Linked DNA regions of Homo sapiens: all the other regions are linked to region 1. A link means that fine-mapping ties the variant in region 1 to the plasma level of a protein whose gene starts in the linked region. Region 1 holds a variant in brackets. A gene starts in each other region. All regions are shown on their forward strands.

Region 1 (4,000 bases):
TTCTCCCACAACTACCCCGGTCAGGTCCAGCACTTGGGAGCTGACTGTGCTGGAGGTGACAGGCTTTGCGGGGTCCGCCTGTGTGCAGGAGTCGCAAGGTCGCTGAGCAGGACCCAAAGGTGGAGTTGTCAGTGGGAGGCCGGCTGTGCCCAGGGTCCTAGGGCCACGTTATGGGGGTCGTCAGGCCTAGGCCACTGTGCCTCAGGGCTGCATGGGTGGTGAGCAGTGGGAGGGATGCGATGGGGGGAGTGGGCTCAGCTGTCTGCTGTGGGTGTTTCCTCGGGGACCTGGCTGGCAGGGACCTCCCGGCCAGCCCAGAACTGCCAACATGTCTGCCAGCACTGCCCCTCCATTCCCAGTCCTGGGGGGAGGCTCTGTCTGGGCAGCTTGAGGCCTGACCTACTGTGGCTGCTTCCTCTGCTCCCCAGCCTGGGTCCTGAGGGCCTGGCTTAAGGGAACTGCTGCCAGAAGGCTGGGAGTGTAGGCAGTGTTCGGGTGCCCAGCTGTGCCCTGTCTGACCTCATGGCCACCCACAAGCTGGCACCCCCCACAGGCCTCTTGGGGAAGCCTGTACTTTCCACCGCCGGAGGCGGGTACCGCGTGGAAGCCAGGCTCAGGCGGACTCATTCTTTTTGAACTTTGGGAACAGGCCTGGTACAGGCTGAGTTCTCACAAGAGACACACACCCGTGTCACTGTCTCCTGAGCTGTGCCGGACCCGTCCTACAGACTCCACCTCCTCTAGGTCCTGGCCCTGGCATCTGCCAGGGGGATTTTAAATGAGTTGATATATGCTAAGTGCTTTGAAAGGCGCCTGCACGGAGGGAGAGCTGTATAAATATTCACTATTGGTAATATTTCTCCCATGCTGTTACTCTCCAAAGCTGCCCGATAATTCTAGAGTGGGTTCCGGGGACGTGCCCGCTGTTTGGGGCCTAGAAATGAACTCGGGAGGTTGTTTTGCTTGCTGAGAGCTGGTCTGGGAATGCCCCTTGACCGTTCCCTGCCCTGCTCCTG[G/A]CCCACTCCCAGACTGCTCCTGTGCCTGGCCCCATTGCGCTGGGTGGGTGATCCTAAGCTGCCCCATGGGCCCTGGGCTCTGTCAAGACATGGGGAGCTTGCCAGGAGTTGGGGCCAGATCCCCCAGACTCCAAGATGGTAACCGAGGTTGTGAGGGTGCACATGGAAGGAAGAGTTAGAAGAGTGAATTGGAAATTGCCAGCTTGGACTTTGGGCAGAGTGGGTGTCTTTAGCTTGGGGATGGGTTGTTGTTCAGAGACAACAGGGCCGCCTTCTCTGTGAGCTGGCGGCCCAGGCTGAGGTGCCTCTGGGCTGCCTTCCCTACGGGAAGCAGTGACTGGCCCTCTGCTTCTCAGGAAGAGAGTGCCGTGCCCCCGCCAGCCTCCCAACCTCGTTAGACTCCTAGAATCCGGTTTTCTGGATAGAACTAAGAATCTGCTCCTTTCTGGACTTTTAATCCTGGAAAGGGCTCCCTTCCCCAGCAGGAGCAGAGAGACCAAACCCCCTTTCTGTGCTCCATCTTGAGCTGTCATTCTGTCCTAACTCCCCACTGGCCACCATCTGCCCTTGCTTTGGGGGCTACCCCAGGTCTGACTTGGGCACGTTCTCTGGGTCTCTCCTCAGAGAGGCTGCTCCTGGGGTTGTCCCAATGGAATTGGGAATTCTTCTCAGAATGGCTCAAAGGTTTGCACCATCTGTTGGAGGGAAGGGATCCCTCTATCTTGGACTAATACAAATGTTTCCGTGCCTGCCAAGTTCCAGACCCTGGGCCGATAGGGAAAGGAGCTGGCTGGGGGGCCTGCAGGGGATGGAGAGGGAGCTTGGGCCCCAAGTGGGGTCTGAAGTCCAAGCCTACAGATTGCCATCAAGGCAGCCGCTAGAGCCTAGCCCAGCTCCTGGCCCCTCGGAGATGGACCTTAGATGCTGGAGAGCGGGGCAGTCCAGCAGTGCAGGGTGGGACACCCCGAGCAAACAGCCCCTGCTTCCTGCCCCCTCAGTTCAGTCGCACTGGGCCGGCTGGACGTTTCCCTGCAACAGGCCCCTGCTGGTGGTTTAGCTCCCGCTCCGTGTTTCCCTCACGCTGGGATCCTCCTTCCTACTCAAGACCCACGACCTTGACCTGAAGCTTTTGGTTGCCGGGAGGAAATGGTGAGTGTAGGCAGATTTGGGTGACTCTTGTTATTAACCCCCTCTTCTTTGTTGCCCCCTTCCCAGAGGCTTCTGTATGAGTGTCCTGAGTGGCCCTGGATGGACTACTGGCTGTCCCTGGCCTCAGAATCACCCCAACCCCTGCCACATTTCGGGGAGGGAGGTGTGTGAATGATGTCCTTTATTCTACAGACTGAGGAAGTGGTCAGTGTAGCTTCACGTGAGAGCAGCAGCGTGCGATGCCCAGGCCCTAGCCAAGTGCTGGTCAGCTTTCTGACTGGAGCCCCTGAGCCCTGCAGGGGCTGAATTCCCCCAAAGGTTGCTTGGGTTGTTGCATTTCGGGGTTAGAGGGTGTGGGTGTCCAGAGCTGTGGGTTTTTAGTGTTGGCTGAGCCCTTTACCTGGGACCTACAGCCTGGCCACAACCCCATCTCTGTTCCCCTGTACCCCACACTGCCCTGTGATAGGATGTGATAAGATGGTAGGATTGCCTATACTGAAGCCCTGGGTGCCACTGCTGGCCCAGCAGGGAGGAGGTTGCTGCTGCTCGGGCTGAAGTGAGGTGTGGGTCTGGCTGGGCCTCCAGTTTCCCACCTGGGCCTTGATTGTGAGGAAGGCCTGGCCTGGCTGCAGAAGCCCAGAAGCACCTGAGTAGGAGAGTTCCTTTGTCCCACCTGCAGCTCATTCAAGCCTGTGCATGGGGGTTGGGGTCCTCAGGATCTTGCTTTCCTGTTTAGGGGAGGCAGCCCCAAAGAGTGCTGGGACCAGTTTGGAGAGTGCTAAGGAATGCTGGTCTGCAGCGACCCTACTTGTGCTCTGCGTCCTCTGCCAACTGCAGCATGGGTGAACATCTGTACATCTGTCCCCATAATGAAAATGGCCTCAGCAAATAACAAAAATATTACCATTTAGCAATCAGGCACTTATTAAAAGCCTGGCCCAATAAACTTAAAAAAAAAAAAAAGATGTGCTAGACACTTTACGTCCCTTCATGTGAGCTTCACACAACCCTGTAATTAAGCCCATTTATAAATGAAGAAATGGAGGATTGAAGGATTAAGTTACTTGGCCAAGGTCATACAGCTCGTAAGCAGCTGAGCTAGGACTCAAATCCAGGCTTGCTTCCAAAACCTTCACTTTTCAGCCCAGTTCTCAACTGCCCCCTGGAGTTTGCTCATTTTGCCCCATGAAGAAACAGATCCCAGCTCAAAGGCGTGAAGGGGTTTGCTCAAGGCCACAGTGTATTAGTGTCAAAGGTGGAACACAAACCCTGACCTCTGAGTGCTCTCCCGAACCCCACATCCCGGCCGGGCCGTACCCTGAGCACACGCTTGTCCGCTTTCTCAGCTGGGCGGGGCGGGGCAGGACAAGGTTCTTCTCCCTCCCTCCTTCCCTCCTTCCCTCCTTCCCTCCTTCCCCGTGGGCCCTCCCAGCCTCCCCAGCCCCCACCTCTGCTGCTTTCCCTTGGCAATTGCTTCCATCTGGCCTGCCTGCAGCTCCTATTCCTTTGGAAATGTGGCTGCCGCCCACATGGCTGCAAGGCAACCACGGCCACACGTGGGGAAGGGGAGGGGCCCTATGGGGTCTAAGCACAGGGAACCCAGCCAAAGTGGCTGCTCCTGGCGTCTGGCATCCTGATTCCTGCCAGGCAGAAGCACCTTGGCTGCCTGGCCCTCCTTGATGCCCGTCCTGGGCTGGCTCAAGGCCAGAGAGGCTCCCAAAGACCCAATTCTCCTTCCAACATGGTGAGCTGTTTTGCCCACAGACAAGCTCCGCACCGGCAGCCCTCCCTGTCTCTTAGAGGTTGCTCAGGTTGGGAGGAGGGATTCCTGGCAG
Region 2 (4,315 bases), not on the chromosome of region 1:
CTAATGAAATGGTTTGCTTCTTTAGTGTCATACATGTTAAAACATAGGAAGGCAAATGTCAAAGTTTGTGTTTCTTTTTATTCTATGGAAAGAAAATTAAATATGGCTCATCAAATAATAAGGCCAATAATATTTAATTATTGTTTTGTGAATTCGTATAAATGAGCTGACCTCTCTGGGCTGCAGCTTCCTTCTCTGCAAGATAAGGGAATTAGGCCAGATGAGTGAACTGTTTCTTTTTCAGCTAAGTTTGACCCGATTACTACTATTTACATAGTATTAACTAGATGCTATGTAGTCATCTTTAATATGCTTGAAGACAGTTATTAACTCACTCCTTAGCCTTTTGTTGTTGATCATGGAAAACTACTGGGTATCTTTGTTTCTTCTGTGTATATTCTCAGTATGTATAATGAGTCTCAGAGCCTCTTGTTTTAAGATCTGGGTAGGCTGGTGGCTCTAGAATATGGATGACCTTTTAGGAAAGGTCACCTTGCCATCTGTAAATTTTCCCCCAGATAGACTTCAGGCCCTGGGGAAGGCATGGGTTCCCCTAACTGGATAGAGGATCAGAGCCAGGAAGACTGTGTCAAATTCTAGAAGTGAATCTTCTCCAGGACTCAGGGCATAGCTTTGTCACTTACCTATAGTTCAGAAGTGTGAGTGAATCATTTCCAAGGACAAATTTCTCCAAAGGACCAAAAGATGTGTTAGTAAGAGGGGTTCACAAAGACTGTGTTTGTGGGAAAATTGAAGTGTGAACAAAGAAGGTCTACCAGGACAGGAAATACTTTTGATCTGTCATTTATCAGATCAGGAGGGAGGGACATGAAGCCTGCCTCCTCTTACAGCTAGGTCATCAAAGAGTTTGACTGTAGCATTTTAAAATAGCGAAGAAAAAAAGGTAACAACACTAGGGGTTTGTTAAACAATTTATGATATAATTAGAGAATGGAATATTATGCATCAATTACAAATAATGTTTATAAAGATACTTAAATGACATGGGAAAATGTTCAAGATATAACAAATAATAGTACATATCTGATGAAAACTATAAGTAAAACATGATATTAAACATGTAAAAATCTTAACAGACCAACAGGTGGAAGGCAGTGGACCAGAATATTAGCAGTGTTTATATTAGGGTGGTAAGAATGTGGATGAATCTTGTTTTAATGCTTATAATTTTTCTAAACATTCTCAATGAAATATGCCTTACTTTTATAGTCAGAATAAAAAGCAATACAAGTTATCTTTTAAAACAACCCACATACACAAAACCCCCAACTAGAGTAATTGCACAAAGCTTAGATTATCAAAAAGAAGAAAAAAATTACTGGAAAAGTTTTGAAGAAGTCATTGAGTACAAGATACTGACGTAGGTGCCGGAAGAAGAGAGCAGTTGGCCGTGCTGGTGGAATAACCCTCTCTGCAAAGGGCCTGGGAGTTGAAGAAGGGTGCAGTCGGGTGGTGGTTATGAATCTCAGAAATCCTGCCACGGAGCCTCCTTTTGTGCCCTATTACTTAACCTTGAGGGACATAGAGAGCATGAGACACCAAGGGGCTTTTGGTTGCCTTACTGTCCCACTAAGAACATAGAATGTTGTTTTGACTTTCCCTTTGCTTAGGGAACCTCCCCCAGATACTCAGCTGGCTGGCTGCTTGCACGTAGAATGGGTTTTGCAAAGTTCCTAGAAGTGAGTTGGAGGAGGCTTGACATAAATCAAGCACTGTGTGCTAAATGCTCCAGAGGGCTACCTTATGTCCTACACAAATGTTACATTTCTAATATTTGTAACTCCTTTAAACGTTTATGCAGATGTTTCCCAATTCCTCAGTAGAATTCTTACCATTATCTTTTTGACACAACCTGTCCCCATCCTATGAAAATCTCTCCTCTGCTAGAGACTTTATTCTTTCTTTCTCTCTCTCCCCCTTCCTTCCTTCCCTCCCTCCCTCTTTCTTTCTTTCCATCTTTCTTTCTTTCTTTCTTTCTTTCTTTCTTTCTTTCTTTCTTTCTTTCTTTCTTTCTCTTTCTTTCTTTCTTTTCTTTCTTTCTTTCTTTCTCTTTCTCTCTCTTTCTTTCTTCCTTTCTTTTTTCTCTCTCCCCTTCCTTCCTTCTTTCCTTCTTTTCTTTTCTTTTCTTTTCTTTTCTTTCTCTCTTTCTTTCTGTCTTTCTTTTCTCATTCTGTTGCCCTGGCTGGAGTGCAGTGGCATGATCTCGGCTCATAGCAGCCTCCACCTCCTGGGTTCAAGCGATTCTCCTGCCTTAGCCTCCCTAGTAGCTGGGATTACAGGTACCCACCATGATGCCTGGCTAATTTTTTGTATTTTCAATGGAGACGGGGTTTCACCATGTTGGCCAGGCTCGTCTTGACCTCCTGGCCTCAAATGATCCACCCACTTTGGCCTCCCAAATTGCTGGCATTACAGGCGTGAGCCACTGCACCCGGCCTGTTCCTTCTTAAGAACACTTTGTCTCCCCTTTAATCTCTGCTGGATTTCAAGCACCCCTTTTACACAACTCTTGATATCCATCAATAAAGAATAATTCCCATAAGCCCATCATGTAGTGACCGACTATTTTTCAGTGACAAAAAAAAAGTCTTTAAAAATAGAAGTAAAAGTCTAAAGTCATCAAAACAACGTTATATCCTGTGTGAAATGCTGCAGTCAGGATGCCTTGTGGTTTGAGTGCCTTGATCATGTGCCCTAAGGGGATGGTGGCGGTGGTGGTGGCCGTGGATGACGGAGACTCTCAGGCCTTGGCAGGTGCGTCTTTCAGTTCCCCTCACACTTCGGGTTCCTCGGGGAGGAGGGGCTGGAACCCTAGCCCATCGTCAGGACAAAGATGCTCAGGCTGCTCTTGGCTCTCAACTTATTCCCTTCAATTCAAGTAACAGGTAAACAATGTTAATGTCTTTCTTTCTGTAAATATTTTTTGAGGTCTTCCAATTGGCTTAGTTTATTTTAAATTTCTAACAATGTGTGAAATTTGAACATTTGAAGTGTAGTTTTGCTGTAATAGGGCAATGTGTTATTTTGAAAATCATTGATTCTCAGACTACAATATAGTATCTTAACAAAAGTCCCTTGGAAATAAATTTTCTAAGCTATTAGTTTCTCTAGCTATTAGTTGATAGTGTCCCAAGAATTTATTATTATTATTATTATTTTAAATTGAGATGGGGTTTCACTATGTTGCCCAGGCTGGTCTCAAACTTCTGAGCTCAAGCAATCCACCTGCCTCTGCCTCCCAAAGTGCTAGGGTTACAGGCATGAGCTACCATGCCCGGCCAATAATTTTTAATTTATGTATCGTTTCTTTCTTTCTTTCTTTTTTTTTTTAATTTAAGAAAGCTGCTGTAAGTAGATTGGCTCTGGAAGCTCTGAATTTAGGTTGCCTATGTTCCTAACACAGGTCCAATTCTCACTAGGTAAGCTTAGGCTTAGCTATTATTTAAACTCTCCAAACCTCAGTTTCCTTAACTGTAAAGTGGGAATAATAATAAACCTCACCTCAAGGTCATTGTGAGGTAAAATGAAATAATCCATGCGAAGGGCTTAGCTCAGTCAGGCTTCAAGATAAATGTGAACTGTAATTACTCTATCTACCTGAATTGAATGAGTTCCAACATGAATTCTGGAGTCACCACAGAAGCTGCTACAACACCAATATTAATAAATTAGTTTTCTTTTACAATCGGCCAAAATGTATTTTCTTAGATTAAAATTCTTTAAGTTCCCAATGACGATGATGAGGAGGATAATACATCTAGCACTTTGAGCAGCACACAGTTCTCGTAACTAGAAGGTAGGTATTACAGTTAACTTCATTTCAGATGAAGAGACTGAGGGGTAGGCACATTAAGGGATTTGCCCAAGGATGTACAGGTGGCAGCTATAGGAGGCAGGGTCTGAACCACCTTAGTCTGACTCCAGTGCCGGTGTTGTTGATTATTATGCTATTCCATCTAACATGGTGTGATTTGTAATTTCATGGACTCAGGTAAATCCAGGGTTAAATTAACTTCGGAAAATCACAAGCACAATTCCTAACAGAAAGAATTTGTTACTTGGGTGGGCTGGAGTAAGATGCTCATTCAACGTGTTCTCAGAGTTAGAAAAAGGCCCCCGCTTGGTTCAAAAACTGGACTGATAGGGGTCAACAGTCATGCTTAAATAAGGACAGTTATTTTTCCCTGAAAGATACATTGAAAAGCCAGTATCCTCAATTTTCTTTCTTATTTTGGCAGTACAGAGACTGCATTATTTGTTGTTATTCTTAAACATTAAGTGTACATAGCCCAAA
Region 3 (4,000 bases), not on the chromosome of region 1:
TATTAGGTTGGCAAAAGTTAAGAAATATGACAAGACCAATTGTTGGAGAGGCCGTAGGTTAATAGGCACCCTTCTAACTGCTGATGAGAGTGTATATTGGTGCTCTCAGAGATAATTAGGCATTATCTTGTAAACGGAATATTCTTATACCCTGTAACTCACAGTTCCATTCTTAGATGTATGCCCTAGAAACGCTGTCACACTAAGAACCAGACATGTCTTTGTGTTTACTTCTCTTTTTTTTTTTTTTTTTTTTTTTTTTGAGACGGGGTCTCGTTGTGTCGCCCAGGCTGGAGTGCAGTGGCGCGATCTTGGCTTACTGCAACCTCCACCTCCCGGGTTCGAGCTATTCTCCTGCCTCAGTCTCCCGAATAGCTGAAACTACAGGCGTACGCCACCACACCCAGCTAATTTTTGTATTTTTAGTAGAGATGGGGTTTCATCTTGTTGGCCAGGACCGTCTCTATCTCTTGACCTCATGATCCTCCTGCCTTGGCCTCCCAAAGTGCTGGGATTACAGGCATGAGCCACTGCTCCCGGCCTTACTTCTCACTATCTGTGTGACCTTGAGCAAATCACTTAATCTTTCTGTGCCTCAATTTCCTCATCTGCAAAAAGGAATCAATAATAGTATCTTCCTCATAGGGTTTTTGTGCAGATTAAACAAATAAAATAAGTAAATATTTTAAAGCATTTAGAACAGTGCCTAGCACACAGTAACGCTATATAACTGTTTCATAAAATAAAAATAAATAGGCATAGCCAGGTGCAGCAGTTCAAGACTGTAGTCCCAACTAATCAGGAGGCTGAGGTGGGAAGATCACTGGATCCCAGGAGTTCGAGGTTGTAGTGTGCTATGATCATGCCTGTGAATAGCCACTGCACTCCAGCCTGGGAAATATAGTGTGACCCCATCTCAGTAAATAAATAAATAAATAAATAAATAGAGATGCATATGTAATAAAGCACTTAAAAATAAGAGAACAATAAACACAAAATTCCAGAGGGTGGCTACCTGTGGGTGGGAGGCAAGTAGCATAAAAGTGGACAAGTGGTGGCCAGGTGTGGTGGCTCACGCCTGTAATCCCAGCATTTTGGGAGGCCGAGGTGGGCGGATCATGAGGTCAAGAGATCGAGACTCTCCTGGCCAACATAGTGAAACCCTGTCGCTACCAAAAACACAAAAATTAGCTGGGCATGGTGGCATGCGCACCTGTAGTCCCAGCTACTTGGGAGGCTGAGACAAGAGAATCGCTTGAACCCAGCAGGCGAAGGTTGTGGTGAGCCAAGATTGTGCCACTGCACTCCAGCCTGGGCGACAAGAATGAAAACTCTGTCTCAAAAAAAAAAAAAAAAAAAAAAAGCAGATAAGTGGTGTTTGCAGTTTGGTGATACTCCATCCTTGTGCTGAGTGGCAGCTTCAGGTGTGTTTGGTATATTACTGTGCAGTATGATGTATATGTATGTTACATAAGCTTTTTATGCGTTACCTAGTAAATTTTACAAAAATAATAAAAGGGAAAAAGGGCCTTTCTACGTGCCTAGAAAGAAGAGGCTTCATGGGAATGTGAGCCATGGGTTAGGAAAGACCCCCTCGAACCGAGGCAGGTAGGAAGTGAGTGACTGAGATTCATTATGAACCCACCACGCCTGCCGGGGAGAACAGGGACTGTCCCTTCCCCTCTGCATCAGCTCAGATGGTCCAGATCACAGCCCACGTGGGCCCCTAAATAAGGAGGCAGCCCCACATTTCTACATCGGCCACCGAGATGGCAGAGCAGAGGAAGGAGAGAGGGGAGACAAATCAGGAAAGGAGCGCCAGGGCAAGTGCGTGAGCTCAGAGACCCAGCAGGGCAGGGCAGGAGCTTCACAGAGTGCAGAATGTCGAGCCACAGGAGCGCTGGGGATTCCCCAACCCCTGCACTTACCAGCGAGAAACTGAGACCCAGAGAGGGGAACGGACTAAAACTCAGACCTCGACACTGCCAAAATCCTTCCCATGCTGCCACGCTTCATTGGAGGGAAAGTGAGAAGCTCAACCTTACCCCTGTGGGCTCCAAGAAGGGTAGCTCTGGGATCCCGGGCAGGAAATTGGTGACAAGGTGACAAGGTGCGCGTGTCACAGCTGCCCAGTTCACGGCTTATTCAGTCTTCTCCCTCCCCCCACTCCCCACCAGAAGTGACGTGCTTCCTGTGCCCCGGTTCCCACCCTAAACTAGCCTCATTTAGCTCCACTCCCATTCCGCTTTTTTTTTTTTTAATTGTGGTAAAACGTACACAACAGAATTTACCATTTCAATTTTTTTTTTTTTTTTAGACTGAGTCTCAGTCACCCAGGCTGGAGTGCAGTGGTGTGATCTCGGCTCACTGCAACCTCTGCCTCCCGAGTTCACGTGATTCTTGTGCCTCAGCCCGCAGAGTAACCGGGACCACAGGCACCTGCCACCACGCCTGGCTAATTTTTGTATTTTTAGTAGAGACAGGGTTTCACCATGTTGGCCAGGCTGGTCTCGAACTCCTGACCTCAAGTGAACTGCCTTCCTCGGCCTCCTAAAGTGCTAGGATTACAGGCAAGAGCCACTGCGTCCAGCCAATTTTTTGTTGTGTTGTTTTTAAGACAGAGTCTTGCTTTTGTCACCTAGGCTGGAGTGCAGTGGCACAATCACAGTTCGTGGCAACCTCTGACCCCTGAGCTCAAGTGACCCTCCCTCCTCAACTTCCCAAGTGACTGGGACTACAAGTGTGCAGCCACCAGGCTTGGCTAATTTCTGTAGTTTTTGTAGAGACAGAGTGTTGCTTATGTTGCCCAGCCTGGTCTCAAACTCTTGAGCTCAAGCAATCCTCCCACCTCAGCCTCCCAAATGCTGGGAATGAGCCACCGTGCTAGGCCCATTTTAATTATGTTTAAGTGTACAGTTTGGGGCACTAAGTACATTCACATTGTTCTGCAACCATCACCACCATCCATCTCTGGAGCTCTCTCTTTCTCTTTTCTTTCTTTTTTTTTTTTTGAGATGGAGTTTCGCTCTGTTGCCCAGGCTGGAGTGCAGTGGTGTGATCTTGGCTCACTGTAACCTCTGCCTCCCAGGTTCAAACGATTCTCTTGCCTCAGTGTTTTTGTTGTTGTTGTTGTTGTTTGTTTGTTTGTTTGTTTTGTAGAGATGGAGCCTCACTCTGTCGCCCAGGCTGGAGTGCTGGAGTGCAGTGGTGTGATCTCGGCTCACTGCAACCTCCGCCTCCCGAGTTCAAGCAATTCTCCTGCCTCAGCCTCCTGAGTAGCTGGGACTACAGGTGCACGCCACCACGCCTGGTTAATTTCTTTTGTATTTTAGCAGAGATGGGGTTTCACCATGTTGCCTAGGCTGGTCTCAAACTCTTGAGCTCAGGCAATCCGCCCGCCTTGGCCTCCCAAAGTGTTGGGATTACAGGCATGAGCCACCGTGCCTGGCCTTGCCTCAGCCTCTTGAGTAGCTGGGATTACAGGCACGTGCCGACTGGCTAATTTTTGTATTTTTAGTAGAGATGGGGTTTCATCATGTCGGCCAGGCTGGTCTCGAACTCCTGACCTCAAATGATCCGCCCACCTCAGCCTCCCAAAGTGCTGGTATTACAGGCATGAACCACCACGCTTGGCCAGAACTGCCTTCCTTTTGAAGGCTGAGCAATATCCTATTGTGCGTGTGTGCCGCATTCTGTTCATGCATTCATATACTGATGGACACCTGTGTTGCTTCCACCTTTGGCTATTGTGAATAGTGCTGCTACAAACAGGGTTGTACAAATACCTGCTCAAGACTCTGCTTTCAGTTCTCTGGGGTATGTACCCAGAAGTGGAAATGCTGGATCATAATGGTAAAATATACACAACAAAATCTACCATCTTAACCTTTTTTCTTTTTTTTTTTTAGTGGTAATTCTGACTGGGCTTGGTGGCTCACACTTGTAAATCCGGCACTTTGGGAGGCTGAGGTGGGAGGATTGCTTGAGTCTAGGACTTCAA

Alleles and levels. Positions count from the first base shown, and alleles are read on the strand shown. Strength reflects both the effect of a copy and how common the allele is.
As copies of G replace A in region 1, the plasma level of the protein whose gene starts at base 2,797 in region 2 goes down (weak association).
As copies of G replace A in region 1, the plasma level of the protein whose gene starts at base 2,156 in region 3 goes down (weak association).

What was found. PIP is the chance, under the fine-mapping model, that this variant and not a neighbour inherited with it causes the effect. The UK Biobank Pharma Proteomics Project read protein levels with antibody pairs (Olink). The fine-mapping took linkage between variants from a reference panel, not from the people measured, so its PIPs are less certain.
Region 2: CD28 starts here. The variant in region 1 is fine-mapped to the plasma level of the CD28 protein (UK Biobank, PIP 0.94).
Region 3: ICAM2 starts here. The variant in region 1 is fine-mapped to the plasma level of the ICAM2 protein (UK Biobank, PIP above 0.99).

The regions. Positions count from the first base shown.
Region 1 is chr11:126,356,184-126,360,183 of GRCh38, forward strand. All of the region lies in intron 1 of ST3GAL4 (ST3 beta-galactoside alpha-2,3-sialyltransferase 4), which reads left to right. Among named protein-coding and RNA genes, the nearest start is that of ST3GAL4, 2.5 kb to the left of the region's middle. RefSeq lists enhancers at 1-624, 312-461, 2,111-2,852. The variant G/A (reference allele first, on the strand shown) is at 1,017.
Region 2 is chr2:203,703,843-203,708,157 of GRCh38, forward strand. CD28 (CD28 molecule) reads left to right here and starts at 2,797. Exons shown (of 4, transcript NM_006139.4): 1 at 2,797-2,906. The coding sequence starts at 2,855. RefSeq lists an enhancer at 2,677-2,826.
Region 3 is chr17:64,018,478-64,022,477 of GRCh38, forward strand. It overlaps ICAM2 (intercellular adhesion molecule 2), which reads right to left and starts at 2,156. Exons shown (of 5, transcript NM_001099789.2): 1 at 2,046-2,156. RefSeq lists enhancers at 1,776-1,895, 1,990-2,490, 2,236-2,325, 2,546-2,595.